2 separate regions of the Homo sapiens genome follow, and region 2 is linked to region 1. The links come from fine-mapping of genetic effects on gene expression. Tissue or cell type: subcutaneous fat. Region 1 holds a variant in brackets; the other region holds the start of a gene. All regions are shown on one strand. Distances are from middle to middle. Region 1 has its middle 57 kb from the start of CDH6. Region 2 holds the start of CDH6 (cadherin 6).

Evidence for each region.
Region 2: it holds the start of CDH6, and the variant in region 1 is fine-mapped to the expression of CDH6 in subcutaneous fat (TwinsUK, PIP 0.95).

The regions. Positions count from the first base shown.
Region 1 is chr5:31,128,328-31,145,108 of GRCh38, forward strand. No RefSeq gene overlaps it. Among named protein-coding and RNA genes, the nearest start is that of CDH6, 57 kb to the right of the region's middle. The variant CT/C (reference allele first, on the strand shown) is at 8,710.
Region 2 is chr5:31,183,789-31,200,569 of GRCh38, forward strand. It overlaps CDH6 (cadherin 6), which reads left to right and starts at 9,898. Exons shown (of 12, transcript NM_004932.4): 1 at 9,898-10,098.

The sequences.
Region 1 (16,781 bases):
TATGCTTACAATATAGAAGAAAAAGATAAAATTTGAAAGCATTATGTTGGCCAAAAAAGATTCAGGGTGTGTAATCATGACCAAATTTATTTTTACCTCCAACTCTTCTTTTAAACTCAACTCAACGATTACTTTCTTCTTTTTGTCCTGAATGAAAACTTGGGCAATCCCATGACTTTTCTAACTACTCTTAGTAATTGCAAACTCCTACAGTCACCTTAAGTCACAAAACATGATCTCAGTTTGATAATTATAATTACAATCTCCAGGGCCATTTTGAGTCAGAGCTTCCAATTTCATTCAAAGGAAAGTCTTATATATAAATTATAGTTTCATAAAAAATTTCTATATGGAGTTCCAACTTTAAATCCAATAATTCCCATAGAAGTAACAACATATAAATTCCCTGGGTGAGATAAGTCTGCATGCAGTCTGGGGTGGGAAGGAGGAAGAAGGAGGAAGCAGAGACCAAGAGAAATGAAGAGTATGGGTAAATGCTTACAGGACTGGCACTTTGTAAGCCGGCTTTCTGCTCTTGGTTTGGTGGATGTTTAAAGTTGTCACTTGTGAAGCTTTCTGCACAGGTTTCCTACAATCTTTGACCACTTGTGGCCTCTCGCTTGCCTTTCCCCAGCCAGATGAATGTCCTCTATTCTTGCAGGTCCCTAATCTCTCCTCAGGTCATCTCCAGCTTCTTCTCTGCTGAAGCCTTTTCAATCTTCTAAAGATGATCCTATTAGGTCAAATCAACAAGGACCTCCAGAACAGCTTTTTCTCACTTACAGTGCTCAACAAATCCCCAAGAAACACTCATAAGTTTTTTTTGCCCAAACAGATCCTGGGAATAGAGTTAGACCTTAGGCAGCCTCAATATGTCTTCACTTTGGTTTTCTCGACTATCCCATCTCTGCCTTTTAAGTATTTCAATATGGGGTCGCACACCTGAATTAAGGCATCATCACGCTCTCAAGTCGTGTCTTGAAGGTCTTGTCACACACCCGAGATGAGAGACAGCAGAGAAGGGAAGAAGACTCATCTCACGGGGGCTGCTTGTGTTCAAAGAAATCCTCTCCAAATATTGCTTTTAATCTGAGCCTTTTCTTCTCGAAGTGCATGTAGAATTCCAGGGTCATGTAACAACTTTTCTAAAGCTCCTTTGGAAATTCTGCATATTCCTACTCTGGAATGCAGCATCTATCTTATTTAGATACTCGGCTGAAATTGCACATTTAAATCCTGTTGTGGATATTTTTAAATACAGAATAATCCAGAGAAAGATCATAGGTTGACTTGAATGATCAAGAGGGAAAATTTGATGATCCAAGAAAGAAAAGTAGTAACTACAGAAGGAAAGTGCCAGGAGTAAGAAAGAGGCAACAGATTCAAGGGAGCTGGAGGACAGATATGATTATGTGTATCTCAAGTATACCAGTATTCAAAGATTCTAATGAAACTTTTTTTTTTTTTGAGACATAGTCTCACTCTGTCACCCAGGCTGGAGTGCAGAGTGCAATGGCGCGATCTCGGCTCACTGCAAGCTCCGCCTCCCAGGTTCAAGCGATTCTCCTGCCTCAGCCTCCTGAGTAGCTGGGTTTACAGGCACGTGCCACCATACCTGGCTAATTTCTGTATTTTTAGTGGAGATGGGGTTTCACCATGTTGGCCAGGCTTGTCTCGAACTCCTGACCTCAAGTGATCTGCCCGCCTGGGTCTCCCAAAGTGCTGGGATTACAGGCATGAGCCACCAAGCCTGGCCTGGCCTGAAAAATTTTTTTAATTTAAATATGTAATTTCAGGCCCGGCGTGGTGGCTCATGCCTGTAATCCCAGCACTTTGGGAGGCCGAGGCAGGTGGATCACCTGAGGTCAGGAGTTCGAGACCAGCCTGACTAACATGGTGAAACCCCGTCTCTACTAAAAATTCAAAATTAGCTGGGCGTGGTGGTGCATGCCTGTAATCCCAGCTACTTGGAAGGCTGAGGCAGGAGAATCACTTGAACCTGGGAGGCAGAGGTTGCAGTGAGCTGAGATCGCACCATTGCACTCCAGCCTGGGCAACAAGAGCAAAACTCCATCTCAAAATTAATAAATAAATATGCAATTTCATCTCATTCTCTTGTGAAGCAAACAAAAATGCTTGCATCTGTATAAACTAGTTACCAGTAATACTTACTTATACTATCTTTATGTCAACACATTATAACAGAATATTTCCATATATTTTAAAGATATTATAAACATTTAATGTTTTAAAATAATCTCACTATGCATCCTTTTATTGATAAATATTTCAAAGCTTCACAAAGTCTACCAGGTTGTAGCAGAAAAGCAAAATTGGTACAGACCCATAATTCTTTTTTTGAAATTCCAAAATCTAAAAAGCTCTGAAAAACTTCAAGATTTTTCATAAGCTTGATGACAAAATCTGATCTGAACTGAGGAGAGCATGTTTTCTATTTATCCTGCTTACTGCAAACGTTCACATTTTCTGGAAAAATATTAATGTGTTTGATAGTGGGGTTTTACCTAGACTTTGTTGATAGCATTGATTGCGTCATATGCAATATGTGCATAATATTATCTTTCTAAAGTTTGGGGGAGGGAGAATTTGAGCTTTTAAGAGTATTTCAGATCCCAAGAGTTTTGAATGAGAGATTGTAAACCTTTTTTATAAACTAAAATGTAGTATTTTGTGATTTTATGCATTTAAGGAAGCCCAAATTTACAGAATTTAATTATAATGCAGAAACTCTGCCTTAGAGTAATAGTAGAAAGACCTTTTTGTAACCTTGCCTTACCTATATCACCAGTAGCGTGTACAGACTCCAAGGAGCAAATTAAAGCAAGATAGAGTGTACTGTCTCCAAAGAAAGCTGGGCTTTTCTGCTGGCTTCCTTATTTCATCTGGCCTACAACATTAAGCATGTTAATAACCAGAACACTCCTGCAAGTCGTTTGACCAAGCCGGCCTTCAGGTCCCTGGAGTTCACGCAGACCTGCACAGTAAATCTATTGTAGTAATTTGAAATATGTATTACAAATACAAAGGAATCTACATTTAATCCATCTCTAAAAATCATATTTAAAAATCATTGGAAAGGAGGATAAAGTTTATGGGGCATAATCCCATCCGTGTGGAATTTTGGCTGACCATCAAAATACCTTTTGATACCATAAATCTGTTTTAATCTTTAAGAAGTTCTGCACTGAACCAAAAAGGTTTCCAAGTGCGATGGTGCTGAAATGTGTGCAGTCGACCACGGTGTTGAGTCCCGCATCACTCACTGGGTTATCACCCAAGGAAAATAGTACTTTCGACCTCTTGATAATCATGACCATGCAAATGTCTCATTTCTTCTGTGTTCAATCTGACTCACAATTAAATTAGACAGTAAACATAGACATGTGTAAATACCAGATAATATTTCTCAACCTGAGTTTGGGGAACAGAAACCTTTTCAAACCTTTTAATGACAAATAAGCCACTAAGGAAATGCGAAATGTATATGTTGCAACGCAACGCTGCTCTGTTGATGCCTCTGGACACTCGACTGTGGTGGAAATAGGATACTCTAAAAAGACAATGTTGAATAACAAAAATGTAATTTTGCTTAGAAATCGATAAAATGTCTAAATGTTATTAGAACTTATGGATAAGCATCAAGTGTACAGTGGCTGGCCTGACTTCCAAAATATCAGTTCAGTAAATAAACTATGAGCTTAATAGAAAGCTATAACATAGGTGCTAATTACATTCCCCCAAAAACAATGTCATAGAGAGAGTTCTGCATGAGGACATTCCTTTGATGTCTGTATCTCAGAGTACCCAAAAATACTATTTTCTGTTAGGATTAATATTTTTGGGGGGGTTTGGTTGTCTCCTGGTTCTTAGTAAGTGTGCAAGGATTATTAATATTTGTTTAGGTTTTGTCTATCAATTTTCTTTTCTGCATAAATTTCTAGCAAGTATCATGATAGAGAAGAAGGGAAAAGGGAAGAGAAGACGAGAACAAGATGAAAGTAGATGAGGCAAGAAACTCTCACTTATATACATCAGTCAACTGATATAAACACTAATGACTGCTTAATTTTGAGATGCTGGGGTTTTCTTTTTTCTTTCTCTTCAGCTCACATTCTGTTTTTCTTGGTTGTGTTGTTATTTAGTCTATATTTTGATTTTATTATAGACTCTACACATTCCTGAGAGTAGCCATTTCATCCTGTCTTTTGAATTTCTGGTACTCAGAATAAATGAAAGTAAATGTCCAAAGAGGCTTAGCAATAACGTACTAAACATCCTTATCAGATAGGCTTAAAAATAAGCAAAAACTAAGAGTTCATCAAATGAGAGGCTGTGTAGTTGATGTTGAGTTTTAGACTCTCAAACTCCATTTGTTTTGTTTTGTTTTTTAAGATATAGGATGACCAATTGTACTAGAGCAACATGAAGACCAACAGAAGTTATTGTTGGGAGTTTTCTTCTGAGAAATAAATTTGCTTTCTTAGCTTTCAATGTCCTGCCTAAATAATATGACTTAAGAATGTAGGGCCAGGTGCGGTGGCTCATGTGGTAATTCCAACACTTTGGGAGGCCAAGGCGAGAGGATCACAAGGTCAGGAGTTCAAGACCAGCCTGGCCAACATAGTGAAACCCCGTCTCTACTAAAAATACAAAACTTAGCCAGGCATGGTGGCACGCGCCTATAGTTCCAGCTACTTGGGAGGCTGAGGCAGAAGAATTGCTTGAACCTGGGAGGCGGAGGTTGCAATGAGCCAAGATCTCGCCACTGCACTCCAGCCTGGGCGACAGAGTGAGACTCCGTCTCAAAAAAAAAAAAAAATGTAAAGCTTGCAACTCAATTGTAGCAATTGGTTGCAGACCTGATGTTAGACCACTGCCCAAATCTGCACTGTGTAATGTAAAGGACAGTCTTCTGAGGTCAGAGCTATTATTACGGCTTTATTTGCCATATGTTTAAGTGGGAAGTGCATATTTCAGTCAAGTTCACTCATTTTTGTTTCCAGTCTACTGTGCTGCTTTTGTAACTAGAAAACATTTTTAAAATAAAAATGTTAAAAGCAGAATCAATGGAAATAATGAAAATATCTATTCAGTCGTGATTCCCCATACAGGTTAACATGACTGGAAAGAAACCTGTAGCAGTGGAGAGGTATTGCACCTCCCTAAACGTCTTTCAGTTCCCAGGTGGGAATGGAAAGCAACCTTTCTCATACACTTTCTCCTTTTTCTCTGACTATAATGTTTTCTGATTCTATTTAGGAGTGTGTCTAATTGATTTTTCCAGTTTAGCAAGACTTGCCCTGAGTCATTTCCTGTTTCCTCTTTTGCTGCGAACAGAGACATCTCTGCAGAAAGCCTTTCCATCCCATGATAGCTTCCTTGGACCGAGCATATTCAAGTCCAGCGCTATGCAGCCAGGAGGGTGTCTGCTCCCTTAAGAACCCACCTCATAGTGTGGAAATAAACAAACAAGGGAAGGCAATTCAATAACAAAAGAAAGCAACTCAAAAGCTAAGGAAACCTAGCTTCAAAGTCCCTGAAAAATAAACACATTTATGAGACAGTCCTATTTGACACTTTTTTAAGAATTTTTGATAACATTTCATAAAATAGAAACCTAGGTTCTCACCCTTTTTCTATTGTTTAAAAATCTTTATTGTTGAAATTAAAAGAAATTAGAGAATAAAGGTCTGTTCTTTATTAAGAAAATAATTTAGAGTACATCCATTTCTTGACCTCACTACTCATTATATTTCCATTAAGGGCATTACTTTCCACTTGGCATAGCAGTCACTTGAATACTAAACTTGTGCTCAAAAAAGAATACACCCACCTTTTATTTTTTAATTCCTACTAAATGAAAATTAGTTCATTTTGGCTTACATTTCTTTAAGCTGATTTTGAAAATAGCCTTTTTGATGTGTACTCAGGCCAATAAAACCTCCCTACTACCCAGGGCCATTCCAATCCCTTCTCAAAAATCATGCTCTTGGCCAGGCAGGTGCGGTGGCTCACGCTTGTAATCCCAGCACTTTGGGAGGTGGAGGTGTGCGGATCATGAGGTCAAGAGATCGAGACCAGCCTGGCCAACATGGTGAAACCCCATCTCTACTAAAAATACAAAAATTAGCTGGGCATGGTGGCACGCGCCTGTAGTCGCAGTTACTCGGGAGGCTAAGGGAGGAGAATCGCTTGAACCCGGGAGGCAGAGGTTGCAGTGAGCTGAGATGGGGCCACTGCACTCCAGCCTGGTACAGCAAGACTACGTCTCAAAAAAAAAAAAAATCACACTTTTACCTGCCACCATGACAGTGTCATGGTTTCCATTTTTCTTTTCTTCTCTCTCTTGCTTTTCTTTTCTTATAATCTGTCAGTAGATTGGCAACAGAAAAATATGAATATATCATGTGATATTAAATACACTTAAAAGGACATGATTTTTGTGTTTTTTTTTTTTTAACGTGCACGCAGTTCAAAGGGGAAAAAGTACTCACGTTTTTTAAAGTAGTCAAGAGAACACTGCACATGTGTGGGAGGAAGCTGTGTCTCACTTGTTATAACCGGGTTAAGGATTTTACTCTATTACTATATAGCAGACAATAAAAGCAGTAGATATTGATATCTAAAAAAATCACCATTTAATCGTCTTAAACTTCACACATATAAGTAAACTTTTAAATTGATTGTCCTTCGTGCAATAATTCACTTATTGTTCAGCCCACAGAGTTTAAAATTATATATACTTCCTAAAGATGAGTACAGGCAGGAGGAAAAAAAAAAGGTAGCTTGTAACAGCTACAGCTTCTCTATTACTATCTACCATGAATACCTTCAACTGAAAAACACCTCACAGAAACAAAATAAAGGTAAAACTATGTATTAGTCCATTTTCACACTGCTGTAAAGAACTACCCAAGACTGGAAATTTATAAAGGAAAGAGGTTTTATTGACTCACAGTTCCACATGGATGGGGAGACCTCAGGAAACTTACAATCATGGAGGACAAAGGGGAGGCAAGGATCTTCTTCACATGGCAGCAGGAGAGAGAAGAGCTAGCAAGAGCAGGGAAAACTGCCTTATAAAACCATCAGATCTCATGAGAACTCATCACTATCATGAGAACAGCAGGGGGGCAACTGCCCCCATGATTCAGTCACTTCCCACCAGGTCTCTCCCTCAACATCTGGGGATTACAATTCAAGATGAGATTTGGGCAGGGACACAAAGCCTGACCATATTAAACTGGTTTGTGTGTTTTGCAAACACAACTTCAGAAAGCAGCCCCTAACTCACCTTTCCAATTCCCTCTCCTGTTACCATGCACATAGATGACAGGCTTGAGGGCCATTTGCAAAGATTCCAGTTCTCCACTGGCTTTGTGGGAGGGTTGTGTTTCCTATCATGTCATGTGACTTGCTGTGGCCAAAGAAATGGAAGCACAAAGGAAACACATAATTTAGCAGAAGTTTTAAGCGCCGCATTCTCTAGTCCCTGGGAAGTTCATGTCCAAATCGAGCCTCCATTGGCTTCTTCTACCCGTGAGTGACAACAATGAGTAGTGCCCCCGCTTTGCAGATTCACAATGAACATGTAACCTGAGGAAAAAAATAAACTTTTGTGCTAATTCACCAAAATTTTGAGATTTGTTTGTCTTACTGCAACTTAACCTCCCCTAACACATCATCTCATTTAGAAACATAAGCGATCCCACAGGAGGCAGCAAAAGTTAGCAAACATCATAACAGGTTTATTCAAAATAGCATGAATAAAATATTACTAAAAATCTATAAAAAGTAAGTTGTTCTTATTAAAATCTAAAGATTTTAAAATCTAAAAATCCATTGCTTTTCCTTAAAAAGTAAGTTTTTAAATTATAGTGATGTTTTCAGCAGTAGTGTTAAAATAGTACTTAACAGTAATAACGATAAAATTTACATTTGCATAGCACCCCAAAACAGTTTAAATCTGCGTTTTATGTTAATTTGATTAGAATTGAGGGATGTCTCATCAGAAGGTTCTCAGTTTTATCATGTGTGTTGTACAGAAAATATGACAATTCCAATGTCACACTAATTGAAACACATTTTGAAAAACAATAGGAGAGTAAGTAAAAATATTAGACTTAGTAGAAGGAAATTAAATACTATTTCTATCAAAGAGAGAATATGGTCTTATTCTAGATGTTCTAATGCAATATCTGTAAGAAAAAAAAAAAAAACAATAGCTCTAGGTTAGACTACTTGCCAGAATCCTAGAAATGTCTCAAAGAAATTATTAGGAAGTTAAAGAGCAGTAGCTCAAGGTCTCAGTGTGCACTCACATGAGATGGCAGGGTTGCAAATCCCTGCTGAATAGTGGGGCTTCATCATGCTTCTCAGGAAAGAAAAATCAGAAAGAAAGCCACCAAGAGCTATCACCTACGAACCACGAGATATGGCAGTGTCAAAAAGTGACTGGTCATTCTACAAAGCTGGATAAACGACACTTCTCTGATGGTTTCAGGCAATGTAATTAACAGAAAAATGTGTGAACTTGAGGAAATACTAGGACCCAAAGCCATCCAATAGCATTTAAAAACTCAATAAAGGAGACAATTATATATTCTTTTGGCAAATATTAGTCGTGTGCGTGTGTGTGTGTGTGTGTTCTACACAACTGACCATTATTTGACAAGTATTTTTTGAGGA[CT/C]TTTTTTTTTTTTTTTTAAGAGACAGAGTCTCGCTCCATCACCCAGGCTGGAGTGCAGTGGCGTGATCTCAGCTCACTGCAACTTCTGCCTCTCAGGTTCAAGCAATTCTCATGCCTCAGCCTCCAGAGTAGCTGGGACTCCAAGCACGCGCCACCACACCAAGCTAATTTTTTTCTTTTAATTTTAATAGAGATGGGGTTTTACTATGTTACCCAAGCTGGTGTCAAACTCCAGAGCTCAGGCAATCGTCCCACCCCAGCCTCCCAGAGTGCTAGGATGACAGGCGTGAGCCACCACACCCAGTCTATTGAGGACTTATTGTGTAAAATTTTCTCCACTTGGCAGCATGGACGGTACAAAGATGTTTGAAAAACATCCTGTGGTCTCCCAAAAGTTACAACCTATTCCATGCCAAGCACTCTAAGCCCTGGAGACAGATATAGGCCCTGGAGAGCACTTTGGAACCCAGCCCATGCTTTCATTATAGTAAAGATTTCATAGATACTTACTTGAATGAATAAACAATCATTTAGAATTAACCTCCTCCATTTATTTCTTATATATAAAACCTCAATTTCTAAACATTTGCTGTTCTTCATTTAGGATATTCACAAAGCCCCTGCAATATAGTTTTTCTCTACTCTACAGCATGATGAAATATTGTGACAACTTTATAATAATCATGATATTCCAATTTAAAAGCATATAGCCAGAGCTTTATATATGAAAAAAGTGAATAGTTGACCTACAGATAGCCAAGAGGGAAAAACGAGTTAAGGAGATAATGATTTTAAGCAAGAACATTGAAATAAAATATCCCATAAGGTTCTGAGTCAGCTCATGTTCATTTTCTTGTTAATTAGAAACAGTGAGGACAAATATTTGGTAGTTTAGTCTTTAACTTGCATAGTCTTTCTATATTTAAAAATACAGTCCAGGCACAGTAACTCATGCCTACAATCCCAGAACTTTGGGAGGCCGAGGCAGGTGGATCACTTGAGGTCAGAAGTTCAAGACCAGCCTGGCCAACATGGTGAAACCCCATCTCTACCAAAAATACAAGAATTAGCTGGCCGTGGTGGTGCACACCTGTAATCCCAGCTACTCAGGAGGCTGAGGCAGGAGAATTGCTTGAACTCAGGAGGCAGAAGTTACAGTGAGCCAAGATTTTGCCATTGCACTCCAGCCTGGAGACAGAGCGAGACTCTGTCTCAAAAAAAAAAAAAAATAGGGAAAAGTAACATTTATAAAGTTTCAACCATATAACAGATGGCATATATGTGTATATACACATGTATATTTTTATTTTTTTCTCTCATCTCTTCCTAATACTGGCCTTATGGAAAATAAAGCCTACTATCTAGATGTTTCAGGATGCAAATAATTAACTAACAAGAAAACCTACTCACACTGGCATATATCAAGAAGTCCTGGTTGGTTAATTCAGTTGCTCGTCAATGTCCTGAAAAACCTCAGTCCTGTTCAAATGTTTTTTGAGTCCTACTCAGCCTATCACCGTGGTTTAAGAGGCCATCCCTGCTGTCTGCTGTTCTAGACAGGCACAAAATCTTTCAACAACAAAAAAAGAAGAAGGGTATCTCTTCTGCTGTATCTTTTAACCAGCAAGAAATAATCTCCCCTCCACCCCACCCCTCATTAGCTAGACTGGGTCACACGCCCTTCCCTAAACTTTTCACTGGAGAAGGGAACGGGGGCCCTCATGAATGTTGTAGTTGATTATGGTTTAGCAGAGGTCTGGGGCTCTCTGAGCATACAGCTACACAGAAAACAGCTGGCCAACAAGGCACAAGCTGGACATGAAGGGTAGGAAACCAAGAGTGTCTGCTAGCAACATATCCCTTTTCATGTACAGTTAATCTTCTATCCACAGATCAAGATTTGAAAATTCGTCTACTGGATAAAATTTACTTTAACCCCCAAATCAGTACTTACTGCATCCTTTCAGTCATTCACAGACTTACGCAGCAGGGAATGGGGGTTGGTAGAAATGAAAATTTTGAGTCACCCAACGGGCATTTCCATTCCAGACTGAGGCCGAACAAGGTGATTCTGTGCCTTCTTGTTTCAGCTCCCAAACTATAAACAAGTGTCCTTTTCACAGTCTACTTAAAAGTGGCACGCTTTTTGGAGTTTTGAGCTTTGTTGGTGATTTCACCATTTCACCAAGCATGGTACTGAAATGCTGTCTAGTGTTTCTGAGTGTAAGAAAACTGTAAAGTACTTTATGGAGAAAATATGTGTGTTAGAGAAGCTTCATTTAAGTATGCGTTATAATGCTGTTACCCACGAGTTCAATGTTAATGAATCGACAATATATACTTAATAAGGTGTTTTTAAACAGAAACACCTGTAAAACAAGGTTATATATTGATCTGTTGACAAAAGTGTTGTAACCAGAGGCTCACAGGAACCTAATCCTGTATTTTCCCAAGGAGCAATGATTCGATATTTGCTAATTCAGTGTTTATGGAAAATGTACAGAGCATAACTACCACAAATAATGAGAATCAATGGTGAAGAGAAACTGTGATTTAACTAGGTCAAGTCACATGGCCATAAATAACAAGCCAGACCTCAAATCCAAATCCTATCCACCTTGTTAAGGACTTTAAATTTTATTCTGAAAGCAGTGGGAAGACATTAAAAGGTTCTAACTGGGGAGAAACATGAACAGATCTGCATTTCTGGAACATTGTTATGGATACAGTCTGGAGAACAAACGAAGAAGTAGGGAGGTTGGATTTAGGGAGACCAGGTAAGAGGGTTATTGCACTAATTCAGACAAGAAGTGACAATAGAGAGTGACAGTAGAATAGGAAGCCAGGAACTTAAGTATCAAATTGTTTTCCTCTGAGACAACAGAAAATAGACCTTGGCCAAAATGTAAACACTAGCCACCAAGAAAGGATGTAAAAGGAACATAATTTTTACGAAGGAAGAGTCAAGTTTGAGAGAGAAAGGGGTGCAGAGTACAGATTTTTAAAAAGGAAAGAATTGTCCCATTTCAAAATATGGCTAGGTACTGGCTAAGTCTGGCCCATTTTCAGATTCTCATCTGAAAATCTTAACAAGAACCTAGCTCATAGCCTCTATTAATATTAAGACATTAAATTTTAATAAGTGGAAAATGGGATTCTTAAGGTTTCTCAGTTGCATCCTATAGGGAGCTGACCAGTCATTTGTGATTTTACATATCTCTTGGTTAAAGCAAAGTTACAAATACATAACTGAGTATTGGGATGCATTATGCAAATGTTTGACTCTCCCTGGAGGACTTTGTGTCCCCAAAGAAATGAGTGAATTGCAATTGAGTTATAAATATATTTCCACCTGTGATCAACAGTAAAATTTTCCTTATGTAGTATTTAAAGTAAAAGCCTTCAGAACCATTGTACATTAGAATGAAGGTAAGTAAAACGAGAATTACGATCTTCATTTATACTATCATGTCACATTTTCATTGAGACACTGTAGAATTTGAAGTATTGTCAAGTCTGCATGGAATTGTATGAAAGAAGGAAAGAGTAATAAGAGAAAGAAAAATATCAATGCCAAAGGATGGTAAAGGCTAGAATGTTGGGGCGTGTACAATCTGTTCCTTATCAAGTGTTGATATCCAGTGCATTGTCATTTCTAGTTCTTATGACATGTGAACGATTTTAATTATCTCATGATAAGAATTTCATAATACATTTTGCTGTACAATATTCAAAACATTAATGCTAATATATGGCCACATGCAAAGCCTTACATGTCATACATTTGAATCACGTGCTGTATATTATTATACATAAGTGATAGGCACACACTTGGATGACCCACTATACAATAAACTTTTAAAATAAACTGTCCTTTGAAACTCAGCCTTTCAAAGGGCTCATAAAAGCCTTTCAGGCAATACTGTCAGTTAGAAAGATAATCAAAAAAACTAGAAATAAGTGAATCATTTTAGAGTATTTTTCAAGTGTTGAAATTAGAAAGAGGCACATAGTAAGGATGTATTCAGTTTGATTCTTCCTACTGTTGACTATGCTGCACATGGTTTGTGCTGAGTATCCCAAAACTAAAATAGGATATTTTTCATATTATATTTATGAAAGTGTTAATAAATGCTAGCTGCTACACCAGACTTTCTTTTTTTTTTTTTTTTTTTTTTTTTTTTTTTTTTGACAGAGTCTCGCTCTGTTGCCCAGGCTGGAGTGCAGTGGCACAGTCTCAGCTCACTGCAACCTCCACCTCCCAGGTTCAAGCGATTCTCGTGCCTCAGCCTCCCGAGTAGCTGGGATTACAGGCGTGTGCCACCACGCCTGGCTAATTTTTGTATTTTTTTTAGAAAAGACAGGGTTTCACCATGTTGGCCAGGCTGGTCTTGAACTCCTGACCTCAGGTGATCCGCCTGCCTTGGCCTCCCAAAGTGCTGAGATTACAGACGAGAGCCACTGTGCTTGGCCTGTAAACATATTTCTCACATCAGAATCAGTAAGAGTCTTCTTGGTTGGGTAGCCTTCCACATGGTCACTTCTTCCATCTTAGGCCATGGGAGTGCTCTTCACTCAGCCGGTAGGTGGTGGAAGACACTGTGGGGTGCCAAGGCTCACCTGTTTCTTAATCACACTGGTTTGGCTGTCACTCCTCTTCATATTCCATTGGTGAGAACTAGTCACATAGCCTGACCTAGGACTGAGACTGGGACATGCAGCCAGGAGCTGAGCTGTCACTGCCCAGTAGCATCTCCTCACTGGACAGGCCCCATAGACTGCTCAGCTATGTGTCTCGGCCACATGTGACATTTGCATTTCTTGCCAATATTCTTTGCCTTTAAAGATCCAAAATTGGTTATGGAGGGAGTCAAATCACCATACATATTCCATATGCAATGAAACTTTCTTGTTATGGGACAGAAATATCTGTGATGCCTCTTTCATACTAAATTAGACTTCAATTGCATCTGGATCTTTATATAAAATAGTGCTGCTACTACTAATAATTATTATTATCATTGAAAATTGGGGTAAAAAAAAGAAAAAATATCAGAATATAAAAAGAATATTCTTCCTTTCCCATCCCACTCTTCACTCCTCTCGAAAGTTTCAAATTTATAATGAAATGTATTTTCCCATTTTCTAAACAGAAAATCATAGGAATATTAGGTACTACACGAATGAAAAGTCCTTTATCCATCAGGGCCTCCATTAGCATCTTGTAGGCTGAGGCCCAACAGGATAGTGACCTTGTTTATTTACACTTTTTCAGATCTTACCAAATTGCAAACCAAGATTCACACCAACATCCAGACCCCACTGATCAGAACACAGTTTGCTATTACTATAACTTTCAGCTGTTGTGAAATCTGAGACTTGTCTTTTTTCCTCAGTGCTAGAGAATAAATCATGTGCCAAGGAAAGTAAGTGCTTATAATTTCATTTCATATCAATGGGGCTGTAAATATAAGATTTGTGTGAACTATAAATGTAAAAATTACCTGGAAATGATCCTAAAGATATTTTAAGTAAAGAAGAAAAAGAAGGGATCTCATTTAAGATGAGGCAGACATCTCATAGACAGCAAGAAAGAAATAAGATGTCTTTGGGCTCAAAAGAAATTATGCTGAACTTCAGCAATAGGATCAGAAGAGAAGAAATAATGCAAAAATGTTGAGGACCACGCTGCCATGATTAATAAAAAACATTCTTTTTCTTGAAAGACCATTTAACTGACGTAATGATACTCCTTTAAAAGCATGGTAATGATGGGTGGTGATGCAATGAGGTAAGGGATGTTTCTTATGAGTACTTTCTAATAGGCACCCGGCAGATGATACTGGGTAAGGATTCTAGGGCTGATGGACAGAAAACATAACATGGAAAGAAATGAAACAAGATGTTTTTTATCCCAGCATGGAGAAACTCTATGGTTCAAATGGAATTCAGATCTAACAAAAAGCAGGGATCAACCTTAAACAATAATTTTGCCTCCTTCACATTGTCCTGAAATTATTTCAAGCCTTAATTAGAAAATCTGAAAAAAGGAACTTTCTGGAGAATAATGAGATTCTCCCTAGTCTGCTGTTTTTGGAGGCACCACCCTGAGTATGTCTCACATTGCTCCTAGCTAGTTTACAACATGGATTGAATAGAAAGAACACTTTCAGATTGAAAATGGCATTTATTGGTTATCAAGATAACCCTTTCTTTAACAGCTCAATTTGGCATGCCTTTGTTTTTAATTTAAACTGAATGAAAATTAATTTTGTCTTCAAATTTTCATGCCACTTTCTGGGATGATTGGAGCTACCCTGGAGGGTGATGAAACTGGAGATGGGGATCACAGTTTTGGTCTCTAGAGAGAAAGAAATAATTTCCATATTTCAAAATCATTTCATTAGTGAATATAGATGGTCTGGATTTTCAAATCTAGGGAACTAACCATATGCTCCCTCTCCTCTGAAGAAAATAGTGGCAAATTGCCACCATCCAACCCAGAAAGAATGGAAGATATCTAGAAACAAGGAATTATAAATACAAGCCTACTTCATTATGCATATTATTTAATATAAATGGATGGTCTCTGTGTTAATCGCAAAGTTTTTTCTTTCCCAAAAGTTAGCGAGTAATGTATCCTATCTTGGAGTTACTAATAGGTCAGGCAGAAGCCAAATGCAATTCAAGAGAGAATGACTGAGAAAGAAAAATGCATTGCAAAATGGCACTATAATGTACAGGAAAGAGTCACTCTACTATGTAGCAGCCTTACCTGTGATTTCTATTTTGTGGATTGTTAATAGGACCTCGGGTTCCAGTGATGGCAATATTCACTGGGGACCAGATTCACTCCCTAGGTTCAAATTAACAGCACAGTGTTGCAGATTTCTCGAGAAAGATATATAAGGCTGTCAAAAACACAGCATATTGTTAAATCATGTGTTAAAAATAAGTTCCAGAAGTCACAGTAAAAAAAAAATTCAAAAACTGTAATTGTGCAATGGAAATATTATTCCTAGAAAACACACATTGTTTTCCAAAACAAAATCTGCTCTCTGTGTAACATTTTTGTATTAAGCCTTTTTAAAAGCATTCTTGCATGGAATTCAGAGAATTTAAAGCAACTTTCACACATGATCTGAAAGCTCCTGGCATCCCTAGGAGTCCAGGAAGGTAAAATTATATTCTCTTTACTATTTTATAAAGAAGGAGGCAGTGAGCAGATAGATTACGTGGGTTATCCAAAGTCACAAGGCAGAAAAGGGGCAGACCCAGGTATCAAACCTCTAACGACCAATTCTGTCCTAGAAAGGGGCCACCAAGCGAACACGTGATCTAACGTTGTCCTCTTACCTTCCCACTTCTCTAAAGCATGCTTGGCCCAAGCAAATAGAGCCCTGATTCATTCTTAAATTTGTAAGGTAATAAGCCTAAAACGAATTAAAAGGCATATCATGCCATGGCCTTGGGAAAAAACATCCTCTCTCATTGCCGTTACAGAGAGAGACGAAATCATATCAAAGTAAGCCAGACAGTTGAAAGGGAATAGGAAATAAAAAGGAAGTGGCCAAGCGGTGCTGGTGGCAGCTGTCTGAAAGGGAACATCAGCAGGATCAAATAACAGAACTTTCTTAGTTGATTCTTGAAAGCACAAACTAAAAAAAAAAAAAAAAATCATACACACTGTTATGCTGAATCTAAATACACATCCACACACACAGTTTAGTTTTAGAAGGTATAATGGTGAGCTTCTCAATGGCAGACCAGATTAAGCACCAAAACTAAATGCCTTTGAAGTCAGCCTAGACAGTCACTTACATGGCCTAGTTTGAGATGAGCTGAAGGCTCACGTCTCTTCATGCCTGGTATGGGGCCTGAAATCTCCTCCAGTAAAGCCATTTCTGAGGATTCTAGCTCAAATGCAGGTATATGACAAGGGAGGGATAATATTAATCTAGATTTACCCATTATTACAATAGTTTGTCAGGATATCTGTGAAAGAATCAGGCATTTTAAAAAGCAGAGAAGGGAAAACAGTAAGGAAAGGTCCAGAGGCCTTTACGGCACC
Region 2 (16,781 bases), 55 kb after region 1:
TAAGAGATGAAAGGCTGAGCTGTGAGGATCAGGTAGAGACAGGAAGAGTCTACCACCCATTGCTAGAGGTGGTAGAAATACTAATTAACTAGTTGGATGTCATCATATCAGTAGACAGGGTTTAGGCTCCAAGCACTACAATTCACTGCTCAGAGCCAATCTCTCCAAGGCAACAGCCCCAATTTGCTATACAATAGGGTAGCTCTGCACTTATTTTTCACCAAAAAAATCGTATTTTGCAAAATAAACAGCAAACTAGCAGAAACCTTACCCTCCTCTTCTATTGCATATAATCTCTCACCTCCACATAAAGCCATGGGATTCTTTCCTGCCTTATCAGCTGCAACTTGGGTCATATTCATATCAAAGAACAGAAAGTGTCAACACAACCATTTGAAACAAATATGATACCTGAACCTCATTAAATATATTGAGTTAAAATCACATGCAAGATTTGGGTTCAGCTGTGACCACTGGCTGGCTCAGTGACTTAGACACGTTATTTAATCTCTCTGAGATACATGTTACTTATCAATAAAGTGAGATTATAAATAAAGTGAGATGAATGACTTTAGAAAGTTTTCATGGGAATCAAAAAGGCAACTTATAAAGCACTGCTTGTGTTCCTGGCCCATAATAGGCACTCAATAAATGGAGTGATTATTGTTGTTCAAAAACACAAAGTTCTAAGTTTTCTGAGAATTTTAGGGTCTTGTTTTTAAGTTAGAGACAAGTAAACTATAAGAATAAGCTTTTCAAAACAAAGAGCTCAGGATTTAGAAGTTTTCATCTCATCCCCAGATTCTGTTTCTAATAGTTGAAGATAAAGTACTCTTGTGTCTACTATAAAACGACTAGAAGAAAACAGAGAAAACACTTTGGAACACTGATCAAGGCAAAGAATTTATGGCTCAGACCTCAGCAGCACAGGCAACAAAAACAAAAATAGACAAATGGGACTGTATTTAACTAAAATGCTCCTACACAGCAAAGTAAACAATCAATAGAGTAAAGAGACAACCTGTTGAATGGGAGAAAATATTTGCAAACTAGTCATCCAGCAAGGGACTAATATCTAGAATACACAAGGAATAAAAATAACTCAACAGTAAAAAATTATAATAATTAAAAATGGGCAAAGGATGCAAACAGACATTTCTCTAAAGAAGACATACAAATGGCCAATAGGTATACGAAAAAATATGCTCAACATCACTAATCATCAGGGAAATGCAAATTAAAACCACAGTGAGATCTCATCTTAGCCCAGTTGAAATAGCTATTATTTAAAAGATAAAAAATAACAGACAGTAAGAATATAGAGAAAAGGGAACTCCTATACACAGCTGGTCGGAATGTAAATTAGTACAGCTGCTATGGAAAACAGTATGGAGATTTCTCAAAAAACTAAAAATAGAACTACCATATGATCCAACAATTCCACTACTGGGTATTTATCCAAAGGAAAAGAAACCAATATGTCAAGGGGATACCTGCACTGGCATGTTTATTGAAGCACTACTCACAATAGCAAAGATGTGGAATCAATTTAAGTGTCCATCAATGGATGACTGGATCAAGAAAATGTGGTATATACACACTATGGAATACTATTTGACCATAAAAAATGAAATCAAGTCATTTGCGGCAACATGGATGGAACTGGAGGTCATTATGTTAAGTGAAATAAGCCATGCACAGAAAGACAAATATCACATGTTCTCACTCATATGTGGGAGCTAAAAAAGTTGATCTCATAGAGGCAAAAGTAGAATGATAGTTACCAGAGGATGCAAAGAGTGTGGACAAGAGGGGAGACGAAAAGAAGGTTGAGAGGTTAGTTACTGGTTACAAACATACAGTTAGATAGAAAGAATGAGTTAATAACATTCAATAGCACAGAAGCATGACTATGGTTAACCACACATGTTATATATTTCAACACAGCTAGAAGAGAGGACTTGAAATGCCCCCAACACGTGGAAATGACAAATACTGGAGGTGATGGATACCCCAAATATGACTTGCTCATTACACATTTTGCATGTAACAAAATATCATATGTTCCCCATAAATATGTACAAATATTATATATCCATTTAAAAAAACCCTTGTTTCTAAATCAATTCTAACTTCAAACAGTAGATTCTTGTTCAGGACTCTTAACCTGTCTTGAGTTTGCTTGCCCTACCTGAAAAAATGATGGCCAATGTAAATGCACCCTCTACTGAAGAGAACTGGAGTGAACATGCAGAGGAGTAATGGACATGAAGCATTTTATAATCTGGATAGTGCTGTATAACACAGGCTATTACATTGGGCAGCGATGTGCCGCGCTGATGTGGGGTGCCAGAGTTCAAAGCTCCACTCTGCTACCCGCTGGCAGTAGCAGTGTGAGAAGCCATGGACATTAAACTCTGTAACTCTCCATTTACTCACGGGCATGATAAGAATGATTACTTCACAGAGCTGTCCAAAGAAACAAAAGAATATGAACAAAAACTTTTAATACATCGCCTGGCACACTGTAAGTGTTCAATAAAGATTAGCTACTAAAACGTATTATGGACCTTTTTGGTTTACAAAATATTGAGTTCCTTCTCCACTTTGCAATTAGAAATGTTTCATTTGTATTGCTTTCGTTTTTTTAAAGGTTAACTGATTATTAGCAATTTTGATAACCACTAAAAAATGTCAAAACATCCTTTAAATGTCTTTATCTGCATTCTTAAGACATCATGGTTTGTGATATTTTTCAAAGACTTATATCCCTGATTTTTAATGGGCTCAGTGAAATCTCATACATGGTAATATTCATGGAGATATGTGATTACGCTTATAAAGACTTTACTAGTCATAGAAACAGTAATAATCGCTTTCCTCAAATTCTTAAATCTTACAAAGAAGTACCAGTTCATATCACACTGTAATACCAATTAATAAAAAGGCATTTTAACGTATTCGATGCCTCATTAAGAAAAATCAGCTTTCCCTGTGGTTGTTCTTCAAGACTATTATTCCAAATCCATAATGGGCAGCGACAGTTTCAACAGAAAGAGCTTTCCTTTGTCCCCCTAGTGGTCACATGCAAAATAACAATAGGTAAAGAAAAGGCTTTCAGAACTGCTGGAGTAAAAAGCCATTCAACGCCTTCATTCTACAGAAGAAGAAACTAAGGCCAAGAGATGAGGACTTGGCCAAAACTACACAATTTTTCAGCAAGCCATCAGCATATGAAAAAGGCTTTTGGATATTATGAATATTATGACGTCTGGAAAGATACCCCAAAATAGACTTACCTAAGATTTTACAATTTTCTTGTCAATTGACACTAAGAAGCTTTATTTCCAGTTTTCTTTTGCCTTCTCAGAGAGATAATAAGTACAGTTTCCCAGGGGCAAAGATAAGACCTCAGCTGTGACCAAGAATTCTGCCTGAATCCTTGGTGAAGGATTCCTTTTTGAGGAATAAAGACTACCCCTGAGGGTTGAGAAGTGTACAAAGATAGCTCTCCACAGAAAAGACCAGCAAGAGTCAATGCATCTTTTCAGATGGTCAAGGGCCCACAATGAGTAAGACATAAAGGTCAATAAATAAGTTAAATTCAGTTTTTCTCAACTTTAAGGTACCCCCAAATAGGGAAAAATTGGAAGCAGGCAGGGTACACACATGGCAGAAGATAAAACTGAATTTTCTTAATTTGAGAAAAAGAAAACTTATTTGCATTATTAGTAAGCCTGTGTTAGCCCAAAAATTTAACAAAAGTACAGCTTTTGTTTGAACATAAATTAAGGAACTGAAGCCATTATCCAGATATTTTGAGGCAAATAATAAAGAAGACAGTCACGTAACACCCAAAATATGTTTATCTTAAAATTAGAAATTTCAGACTAGAGCAGGTTTCAATTTTTACATCACTTCACATAGATTCCACAGAAAGTTCTGTCAATCTGGAGGCACCTACGTGATGATTATGACCACAGGAATTCACCTCAAAGTGTATGTTCAAACCTCAGCTCAGACGCATACTAACTGCGTGATCTTAAGCAAATTACTTTACCTCCCATTCCTCAGTTTCCTTATCTACGCACAAGAATGATAACAGTATCTAGCGCATAGGCTGTCAGAGGATTAAATGTGAAAAATATACATGGCGAACAAGTACTTGGCACATTGTATGTATGCAGTAAATATTAGTTACTGTTCTTATCAAAATATTAAGGAACCCATTTTCTATACTTTAAGCCTGAAGAGAAAGCAAAGATAAGCAGTGAATAAAAGTAGCTTCAGACTGGATCATGGGAGACATGCTAGTCTGGCCTCTCTAGCTCTAATGAGATGTCTGACTTCGGAGAAATCTCTCAACTGGTGTGATCCTTGTTTTCTTATCTGCAAAAAATAAGAGGTTGGATCCAAGTTCACGAACCTCAAGCTTGACAAAAATGTAAAAGATCATTCACTTCCAAATCTGATACTTGAGCTCATTTACAACAAGAGCTTGTCTAGATTGTGATTAAATGTCTTCAGGGATGGGGCTCATGTCTATCCTAAAGCTGTCAGGCCCTTTTATCTTGAACACAAATGGCCTGAAAATCCTTTCGTATGTTGAGCTGAAATCAACCATCTGCATGTCATCAGGGCTACAATACCAATGGCAAGAAGTAGCACCATTCCTTAATGTGTTGCTGAGAAAGAAGAGACACTGACAAGTATACCATGACATGATGTTTTCTTATTATGTCAATCGTAAGAGACATCTAAATTTCAGAGTTGTTAAAATATGAAAATATGGGTGTCTTAGAATCAACTAAATGCAATTATCGTCCAGCGGCTTCACTAGCTGATCCTAATCGAAGTGTATGGCACATTAAAACCCAGTCTAATTTTCTTCCATAGGACAGTTCCTAAAGTATTTGCAAAGTATCCTTGACCAACTTAAACCTTTCCTTTTCCAGTCTTACTACCTTTAGCTCATATGCAAATCTTAAGACTATAACCATCTCCAGCTTCTGTCTACAGAACCCATTCTAGTTTATCTGAATCTCTTCTCATTCATACATGCGAGCACTAAGCACTTTTTCTACCACCCCAGATAAAATGATGACCAAAACAGACAATGACTCTGCCATCAATAATTCAATGGATATGCACTCTAGAACATGTAAACAATGACATCAAGCCAAAGTACTATAGGTATTCTATGAAATGCAGTAGAGACATAGCAAAAAAAAAAAAAGAAAGAAAAAAAAAGTATATTTAAGTGTGGTACTCAAAGAGGAACAGAAGGCTGTAGGTGAGGTCTGTCTATTCTGAAGAGACTACTAAAGCCTAGACAGAGGGTTGTCTTTCTATCTTCTCATCTTAATCTTTGTCTTCTTTTTGACAGCCATGATATACTGTAAAATTCTGATGTTCTCACAATCTATAAAATCCCAAAATATTTTTTAGCACATGCTATTATATTGTCTTTCCCACTCCAACCTGTCACTCTTCCCATCAAGTGCTTCTATAATTGGAAGGGGGTTGGTGGGAGAGAATTATTTTTCCCTCTGGAGGAAAGTAGAAGATGTTCTGTTTATTCTGGTCTATACACTTATTTAGAAGAATGTACTGAGGCAACACATTTCCTCTTAAGGAACTGTTTCTTCTAAACAAGGACATGCCCCTTCATTCCCATAATACAATCTTGATTCTCAGTCTACCAAGCTTGAGTTGTACATATCTGATCAGGCAAATTTATATTTTACTACAAACCAGTGAATAAAATGTAAAAATAATTCAGCAAAATTGAAGTCCACACTACTTACTATGAAATACCCAGAGTACTAAAATACCCTGTGTAGGTCAATAACATTTTGCTGCTGTGCATTTATCACATTTGGAAATCTTCTGGCATATTGCAATCTACCTATAGTGATGAGTCAACTATAATGATGAAGATGTCTTAATGCATCCTGGGATCCAACCCACTTTAAATACAGTATTGGAAGCTGTCCCAGGATTAGAAAACCTGGATAATCACATGAATTTTGTGTGAATTTATTTTACTTTGTATTGAGATGTCTATGGCTCTTACAAAAAGGGAATTCCATCGAGGTTTCTTGTCTCCTTTGTTTCAATTCAATAATATCCAGAGTGGTTAAAGCTTTTTTCCCCCTTAAACACAGTATGTGTATGGCGTGTGTGTGTGTGTGTGTGTGCGTGCGTGCAGCAGAGGTAGGGGATGGTCATTCATTCCTCACTGAAATCTGTGCTCGTGCACACCATGATGATTAAGCCATAAGCATTGTACTATGTGTGCTTTTCCTAGCAGCAACACATGTAGGGCTAAGTTTTAGATCAATGATTTGGATTGGTTGATCAGAGCTGCCGATGCCAATATTCTTAATTAAGTTCATGTTTTAAAAAGTGAATTTTTTCTCCTAATCAAGAATAATTGTTAATGATCATGAAAACATTTTTTATCAGGTAATCATTGCATACAGATTTGTATTATCTAAAAGAAAGTCAGAAAACATAATTATTTATTTATATGCATCCCCATTATAAAGATAAGATAGCCTCTTAATCATCTGAAGAGAGATTTAGTGGAAGTTGGAAAATCCTTCATCAAAATTAATATCCCTAATAATGGTTTATAAAGGAGATTTTTTTAAAAAAAAGAAATTGAAACTTTGCAAGCTGTAAAAGGAGAGAAGCACCAGTAATTTTGACTGAGGCATCTAAAGTAATGAAGTAGCCTAAAAACTGATGAGATGTTTCAGCTGTACCAAACTACTGAACAAAACAAGAGAATTGGGGAACAGGACACTTTCTGGATTGTCTTCCCAGGATATAAGGACACTCCTTAAATGCTCCCCCCTCTATTTGGTCCTGGGGGTGCTAGCCCCAGCTGATGGGTCCAAGACAGTACCGGACCAATCAGGGTCATTTTCTTTTCTCTCTCTCTTTTTTTTTTTTTTTTTTTTTTTTTTTTGAGACAGCGTCTCACTCTGTGGCCCAGGCTGGAGTGCAGTGGTGCAATCTTGGCCCACTGCAACCTCTGCCTCCTGGGTTCAAGCAATTCTCCCACCTCAGCCTCCCAAGTAGCTGGGATTACAGGGGCGCACCACCACACCCGGCTACATTTTTTTGTATTTTTAGTAGAGACAGGGTTTCACCATGTTGGCCAGGCTGGTCTCAAACTCCTGACCTCAAATGATCCTCCTGCCTTGGCCTCCCAAAGGGCTGAGATTACAGGCTTGAGCCACCGTGCCGGGCGTCAGGGCCATTTTCTAAGAAATTAGAAAGGGGGCTGAAAGAGAAGCCCTCTTTTCGACAGGTAAGCTCTGGAACTGTTGGGGTGCTGTTCTGCCCTGTGGACTGGAGGATGAAGGAGGCAGGTGTGAATGGAGACAAAAGGAAAGCAGAAGTGTCCTGAGGAGGAGATAGAGCTAGGGGAAGAATGCTGGCGGCTTCTCCGGGCCTGCCCCTGGGCCTTTCCAGAGACTCTGCAGAATTTCCACCCTTAACTTTCAGGAGAAACCCTATACAATAATGACACATACCTCTTCATTTGCTTAACTATCTCTGATGGGCTACTGTTACTTGCCAACATGTTTTGGTGTGATGATAGAGAACAAACCAGAAACAGAACTTACACAACTCCAAGTAATCATTTAGCCTCAGTAACTCTCAGTTCCTAGTCTCTGAAATGAGGGTAAAATAATTCTAGATATTTACATCAATCCTGTATTTGAAGATGAATAATTATTGTGACAAATATTACTAGAAAGCCTCAAAAATCACATAAAATCCTTTAGTACAAGAGCTGTCTTTTATATAATTTCATGCTGCCACCTGAACTGTTCAGAAGCAAACGGATTGTCCACTCATACAGTTGTTGTTCTAAACACCTTTGACATGTAGCTTAATGGGGTTTGAAGAATAGTATATTGCAAACAATTAGAGGTTTCCTTTGTGAGATATTAACTGGTTCAACAGACAGAAAATCAACTTCACTATCAACCCTCTTCTACCATAAAAATCAGCCAATTTGCACATTTTTTCTGCTAAAGGTGGTCTTAAAATATGACTTATTTTATTGACATATTTACGTATTATGTATTCATGTATTATCCTACTACCACATATGCTAATAAATTATACCTGTACATATAATCTGTGGGTCTCTATGTCTGCATACACACCTGCACACCCTTTTACCAATAATATTTCTGCTTCTTGTGTGTTCCAGTTTCACTGCCTTGGACATGTTATGTAACTTCTGTTGTCTCTTCATCAGTCTGTTTTCTCTGTCTTAATTGGGAAAATATGACACCACTTATTGAAGGATGAATTAAATAAAATAGTCTACAAAAGTACTTTGTAAACAGTAAAGGACTACACAGACACACAGAGCTAATATTTCCAATTAAATGTATAAGAAATTCATAATCTGACGAATGGACTATGAATCTAAAGCAGCTTTCTTCTCCCCCATTCTTACTTCATACGTGTTTAAAGAGCTCTATAAAAAGAAAATGTTCAGCCTCTTCTCACAAATTGGTAGCAATTCTTCATTTGGGGAAGGTCTTTTCCAGAAAGAAACTCAAATCTTTCCATCTTCCATGTGCAGAACATCTGTGCTAAAACCATTCCATGCACACTTCTTTGAAGCACTGGCTGCCTAAAGGAATACTTTTGATTTGGGCTTTATTTAAATGCCTGAACTTCTATTGGAGAAACAAAAGGTTTTCTAGTAAGAGCTCAGTTGGGAACAGGACCAACCTCCAGCCAGTTTAACTACTCAGAGGCCAAGCAGCCTGGCATTTCTTAGAGCTCTGTGCAATGGAAATCTCCCTGAGAACTTGCAGCACAGGCGAACAGCTGGTTTGGGAGGCTAGTGACCCTGGGTGCAATCACTGTGGTAATTAGATTTAATTTTCCTAATCCAACAGTGGCTGACTCCATCATGCCTATGTCTCCTATGTAGAAAATCATTACTCTCATTTAATGGTACTTTGACATGTTTCACATTTTTGTGGCTTAGTACCTTAACATTAGATATTACCTCTTTGTAACTATCAATCTAGCCATTCAAACAGCTATGTGTACTAAAGAGTTTAATTTGAAGGTTATCCAACTTCGGCAACTTTCCAGAAGGATCTTCGAACGTTAAGCAGACCTTGAATATCATTGTACACCCCTCTTCTGCAAGTCTTTTGTATGCTTGTATCAATTCATTTAGAACGATGGCATCAGTCATAAGTCATTGGCAAGCCTGAAGGGTTTGGGTTTTCAGTGTTTCTGCAAGCCCAGGGAAGCATGGCTTCATGCTACGACATCCTGGGGTCACTCCAAAAGAGTAACAGAGATCATGGGGCTACGTGAAAGCGTGTCTTCCTGGGAGGAGAGAAGGAAAGACATGTATGAATCTATCCATGTCTGCTTGCATCTGGAGAACGCCTGTTTATGTTGTAAAGAAAAGCCATCGGTATTGTCATCTCAGGAGACCGGCTTGTTTTATGTGTGTGCATGTTATACGTGCTATCACACGAAGCTGGCCAACTGATAGAGTGACGAGGTACTGTGTCCCTGGGAATTGTAATTGCTTGGTCGGTGAAAAAAAAAGAACATCAGACCATTGCTGATAATAGCACAAGGTGCATTTTGATAGTACAAAAGAGGAAACAGACGGAGTCATACAAGTTCTGAGTATATCTTAAACCCCCTCCAACAAAAAAAAGAAAGAAAGAAAGAAAGAAAGAAAGCAAGGGAAAGCCTGGGGCTGAAGGAGTGTTCCAGGGAGCGAATTGCTCAGGACTTCAAACACTGGGAGTCATTCTGTCAAGGGGAGGGGGCGGGCGGGGGCAGGCACTGGGCCTCTTTAACAAAGTCCTCCTCTCTTTGCTCCCTCCCACTTCATTCACTTGCAAATCAGTGTGTGCCCACAAGAGCCAGCTCTCCCGAGCCCGTAACCTTCGCATCCCAAGAGCTGCAGTTTCAGCCGCGACAGCAAGAACGGCAGAGCCGGCGACCGCGGCGGCGGCGGCGGCGGAGGCAGGAGCAGCCTGGGCGGGTCGCAGGGTCTCCGCGGGCGCAGGAAGGCGAGCAGAGGTGGGTTCGGGCTCCGTTGGCTATGCATACATCTCCCTTTTTTTTTTTTTAATTCTGTAGCGTTGATAGAAGCCAATCAGAGAGAGAGCCCTCTCCGCCCGGTGGGTGCCGCGCCGGAGTTGGGAGGGATGCTCTCAGCCTGCGAGCCCGGGTCGGGGCGGGCGCGCGGGTCCGGCTGCGCGGGCGGCGCTGCTGCCGCTGCTCAGGACCGACGCCGCTTCCCGGGGAGCCTGGGCACCGCTCCTCCGCCTCCTGGTAAGACCGATCCGCCGTGGGGCTGGGTGGGGGCACCGGGAAGCGGGCCGCCGCAGAAGAACCCGCTGCCTTTCTCTACGCCGGCAGAGGCTGCCAGGGGAGCTCTGGCATTTGCAAAGTTGGCTGGTCAATTACCAAAGGGCGCTGGTGCGTGCAGGTCCCGCCGAGCCGTTTGGGGCTTGATTTATCTCCACCTGCCCGCATCATAAGGGTCTGCGTGGTGACTGCTTGGGCTGAGTTACATTTCTTAGCTTTTGGGGTAAAGCAGAAAATCAGGTAGTCTGAAAACTCTGGAATGCTCCCAGTAAGGAAAACTTAAACTAAAGAGACGATTTGGCTGGTAGAAGGAGCTAAAGAAAACTGTTAGCTTGCACGTTCCGGGCAACGCCTGCCGGCTCATCTAGGACAGAAATGCTTAGGTTGCAAGGAAAGTCCAACACTGGACTCCGAAAATGGAGCACACTGTCCAGGGAAAAGTCATATGGAAGGCGCAGTTCGCTCGTGCTCCTCCACGGCTGGCCAGGCTCAAATCTGGGGGATAAAGCCTTCCCCGGACTGATTGGAGAGTGGTTGGAGTGCGCTTGGTTTTCGGTGCCAGATGCTGGAAAATTGGAGCCCCCAATGCGTTAATCCCAGAATTTAATAAAAAGGGACGCTGCAATGTTGTGGACTGCAGCAGTTGCAGAGCTGAGATTACTTCTTCCGTAGTTAGATATTCTGTCATGAGTTACCGTAGATCTCGAGATGGGAGATGCTGGAGAGGTCAGCGTGGTGCTAAGAAGTGTCACTGCTGCAATAAAATCCATATTTTATGGGGAGTTAAATGCAGGTCTCTGTCAGTGCAAAGGGCTGGCCACCTGAGTTAACTATGACTCAGAACATTCAAGAACCAAGAAGTTTAATCATCTGGAATAGCCACACATTTCTGTCTCCTACTCCCATTAAAAAAAAAAAAAATTTAAATGATGATAGTCATACTATAGAGGTGTATCAGACCGTGTCTCTGCGAATCTTCACTTTCACTTCGTAAAGCACACAGTGGGAAAGAAGGAAGAGGTTTTCCCTGCAAGAATGTTGCAGGAGTGGCTGTTGTGTACATATATGGCTGCTCTGGAGGGGTGCAGATCAAAATGTGGGCTTTCTGAGTGGTTAATTATCCAGGGGGTTGCAAACTCCTCCCTGTGTTGGAAAAAGGAACCCAGGGATATGCCTAGTTAATGTACAACTCTTCCAAGAAGGACTAACAAATATGCTTATATGAATAGTGCCAAGGGTTGCTTATTTCCTTTCTTTTCTTGCTGAAAGCTTTACCTGAAAAGGAAAACCCTTAGGATTTTACTTTGAGAGAGAGAAAAAAAATCTCTTCCAGTTTCACCTGAGACTTGAGCATCATCCCGTGTGTAATAGTACTTGCACGGCTCTATGCTTGCATTTTAGAGAACCGTAAAACCAGTTGTGTGAAGAAAGGGGTATGCTTGAGCAGATGTCTTCATTATGTCATAACCAGGAGGGTAAAGTTTATGCCAGAGGCCAGATTGTCAATGCAGAGCTCAGAAACTTAAAAGAAACCCAACAATTGACTGGAAAATGCAATCACATAGGGTTGTATCTCATCCCCTTTTGCTCTTTGATGTGTTCTAATTAAAAAGGTACTGAAGGAAAATAAAAGACAGATCTTTTCCCACCTAATGTAATGGTTCATGCCATACTTTTGAAGCAGAGGAAGTAACCAATTTCTTCAGAAAAACTAAGAGGCAGCAGCCCAATTTTGAAGGAAAATGGTGCCAATTCAGTTCTACTGTATTTGTGTCTACAATTATCTTTTGCTACCATTACAAGAAAGTGACAGTTTGGTATCTCCATAGGGACTTTTAGTCCCTTTACTATCTGGCTTTTACACCAATTTATTGCACTTACATTTTGTACTGCTAACTCTGCAAAGATAATATATGGAAACATAATCATTTTCTACCAAGTTGCCTACTATCAAAAAACGTGTACCCTACCTCTTCCACCCACCACTTCCATCAGCTTTGCAAGGAAAAACTTAGTGAGGCACTCTTCCTTTTTAAGAAAAAATGTACCTTGCAAAATACTGCTCGAGACACTTGAAAACAGCTAAAAATTTTCTAGAAAGCACAGCTACAGTCACAGGGTATTATATGATACTGTATTATTATAGCACCAAATCTGAAAATTAGGACTAATTGAGTGAATGTCCCACAGAGATTTCTTTAAAAGGAATGAAATGTGACCAATATTCTGAGTGAAACTACAATCTTCCTAAGGAATTGAAATGTGTGGTCCCCCCTTCTGGCCCGGTAGTTGCTTTGCAGTCACGAATGCCAACACACTAAGGCTGAATCCTTTGAACTATTCAAACTTTTTTTAGTTGGAAGGGACCTCTAGTGGGTCACTCCATGCATTTCTCCCTGGAGTTCAGCTGCAGAATGGATTTTGTTACCTAAGATAAGAGTATAACAACTTTTTCTCTGTAGACAAGTTAGTATTCTCTAAGCACTATCTTAATATTTGTGACAGGTCAAATCATTATTGCTATTATTTCTGTACTTCCTCTAATTTAGGGGACTTACAAATATTTTTATGGTTTTCTGAATATCTAGACTTTTGGTAACTGCTGGATGATTCCAAATGAAAGCAATGGCCAATTAATAAAGAATTTACCATCATCAATATAAGATTTTCTTATTTCTGATCTTTTCCAAGACTCTACTTCCTTACTTCTAATTTACTCAATAACAATAATAACATTATATTTAGAACTCCAAAAGTTCTACATGAAGAGCGCCGCCGCCCCCCGCCCCCCAACCAACAACAAGAAAAGAAATATTTGCAGGAAAAAAAAGTGCAATGACTGTTTCAGAAATCTGTGAACATTCACAAGTTATGCTGAACTAAGGCCATCTAATTCAAAGAATTCCCCGTTCAAATAAATATATGTTGAACATCCAAAAGCTGTTTAGATACCTGTGTCATCCTTACTCCAGGTTTTTTCTGTTTCATTTCTTTCCTTGATGTATCACAACACATTTTAGGTAACCTACTCCTTAAAATACTCTGCCTGGAACTTGGAGCAGCATAATTTCTGTAGGGTGAATCAGCCTCTTCTGCTGACAGCCTGCAGGTTTCAACTTCCAATTTAAAAATCTGTTCTAAAGTTTGAAATGTGTTCCAAATAAGATAACATCCAGCAGAATCCAGTTGCCTTGTGCTTCTTGCTTAGTCATGGCTGCTTATTCTTTGGTGTCCGTCAGAATTAGGGTCTCACTTATAAAAATAACAAGCAGTGACTCAGTCTGAATTGCATTCTTAACAGTGTTTCAACCTAGTCAGTGTCTACTGAGCACACTTTATTTACTTCACAAAAAAAGTGAAAATGTAGACAATCAAACTTTCTCTGGTTTAAATATTTTTCTGAATAATGATTCTAAATTCAAAGACTCAAGAACATTATGGTAATAGGAGAACTGCAGAAAGAAGAAGGCATACACACACACGCAAACACAGCACCCAGTTGTGACAATGTTCCAAGAATATTAGAGAAGAAATACAGAAATGCAGCATATGGGCTGATTTTCTTTTCTTCTTCGTTTTTTTCATGTTGTTTTCTCCCTTGGGATTTTTATTTTATTTTGAAGACAGATGAGTGCTTGAAGCACTTTACTGAAACTAAATAGTAATATTTTTGTTCCAGCTTGCCTTTTCCAAAGATTAACTGGTCTACTTTTTTAAGTTTCTATTCGTACAGAAGCCTCTCTTTTTCAAAACAATCTTATGAGGAACTTCAGGTTCTCTCTAATTAGCTATTGAACCAAATGTGTATAGTGTTTGTGATGCTATCACCCACAAAGTAGGAAGATAAGGGAAGAGGGGAGAGTATAAACAACCCTTCAAAGAAGTGGTGCATTCAAAATTACTACTAAATAGTTGGGTCAGAGGGAGCCATCTGCAGCCAACAGTCTAGTTGTTCAAAATTGAACTCTCCAAGAAACTTTCAACTCTTCCAACAAAGAAAAGTTATTGAAGGCTGAATGCTCTGAGCACACATTCATAAATGTGGAGTAGACTCATATGCAGAGACTATTAAAGATTATTTCATCTGTTTAATATCTTTACACTAACACCATTGGGTGCTGGTTTCTTCCAGGAATCAGATCACCTTGTTATGATTTATAAGAGGTAGAATTTCATTAATGCCAGAGTGTTAATATTAAATTTGATTTGTCATGTAAATGGGCAGCATGGTTTGCAAGCTTTTCTTAGTGTATGTGGTACTATCTTGTGGGAGAAACGACTTATGAAGAAGATGAGGCACATAAAGCTAGCATACCACAGGGTATGATTTATCTTCATATTTCAGCACTTGAAAGAACACTGTGTTTTCTCTTTCTCTAATTTCCTAAATTGGTAGGTCTGGCCAAAAGATATCCAAGAGACCTAATAAGTTATAGGAAGAGAAAACAGCAAGAAAAAATTAACTTGGGGAAGTGTCCAAGTGAGTGAAATGGAAAGAGATGAGGACGTAAATTTTTACAGCAGAGGGAAACATAAGAATAGAAATAGAATCAAAATTGCCATTTTTACATAGGGTGCATTTTCCTCTTTATAAATAGTGCTACTGTTAAATGCCACCTTATAAACATAATTACATCATTAACATATTTATACACACTACTCATCTCTACCATAAAATGCAAACTTGAAAATTACCTTTAAAAAATCACCATCTAAGGGAGGTAACCCTGGGTGGATGGTAAATTAACTGGAGGAATATCTTTTTCAAAGTGGTCTGAAATTGCATCAGAATCAACGAAAAGATTTCCTTAGTGCATTGAAGAATATCAACTCTTTTCCTTCTATTATCTTTATTGTCCTGCATGCTAAATAGAAAAACCATGTATTCCTCTGATGCCTGCAATCCAAAGTATACAGTAATAATATAGACCAAGTATTCTACTTGTCACCCATTTGGATCCTGTGTGTGATATAGCATGATGAAAGGCAGAGCTACAAGACAGCAACCCCTCACCTCTTTACATGGTAAATATATATATATACACACACATACACACACACACATATGTGTATATATATATGCTCAGAGCATATATATCTATACACACACATATATATAGTGGACAGAAGGAAAAGAGTTGATAATATATGTGTGTGTATATACATATGGTGTATATATATGATGTATATATATGATATATATGGTGTATATATGTATATATGTACTTTACATGGTGTATATATGTACACACATATGTGTATATATACACACACATATGTGTATATATACACACACATATGTGTATATATGTACACACACATATGTGTATATATATGTACACACACATATGTGTATATATATGTATACACACATATGTGTATATATATGCTCAGAGCATATATATCTATACACACACATATATATATCATGGATAGAAGGAAAAGAGTTGATAATATATACGTTTGTGTGTGTGTGTATGTGTGTGTGTGTATGTGTGTGTGTGTGTGTATATATATATATATATATATATATATATATCTCAAAGATAAAAAGCACTCACCAGTATCTTGGCTCAGAACTTTTATACATCCAAATAATAATGATAATAAATAATAAACTAACCTTTACTGAGCTTTTCTATGTCACACCCTCTTCTAAGTATTTTACATGCATTTCGCATAGCAATAATTACACAGTAAATCAAAATGACCCTACTATACTTGTATCCTCTTTACTTAGCCCTTTTTTGGTTTGAATTTCCAGGGAATCTCTGTTTGAGCCAAGCACTTAATGAAGGTGCTGTTAACAAACAGTTGTGATGTCTTAGAAGTAAAAGTGTGACTCTCTCTGAGAACTACAGAGCAGCAGAGGGCATGGGAATGATTTGATTATTTTGACCAGAGCTTGGCAGATGTGAAGGCTCAGGAAGATGTTTTTAAGTTATTCATTTTTGAAAAATCATCTGCAAGCATGTGTCAGAATTTATAATTGTAGTAGAAAGCATTGTGTGGGCCATTTTTATGAACATAATGATGGTACTTTTTATATGAGAATAAATTATCTTATCCTGCCTTCAGAGGGATCTTTATGAGGAAAGGGGTATTTCAGGAAGGTAGCTAAAATGACACCTGTTCATTGCATTGAGAGGGGAGGGACACCTCAACCTCACAGCACCCACTAAGGGCATCAGTCCATTCTCAGCTCGTTGACATTACCATGGATGTAGCATTTGGGACTCTGGGTAGAGCTAAGTAAGATAGTGTTTGTGTCCTTCTTCATCTAGTAAGTAAAAATAATTTTTTATGACCACATTTATTTTGTTACTTCATTACTATCACAATTTGGTATTTGTTCTGAATGATTTACCAAGTAAAATTTCACACATACATAC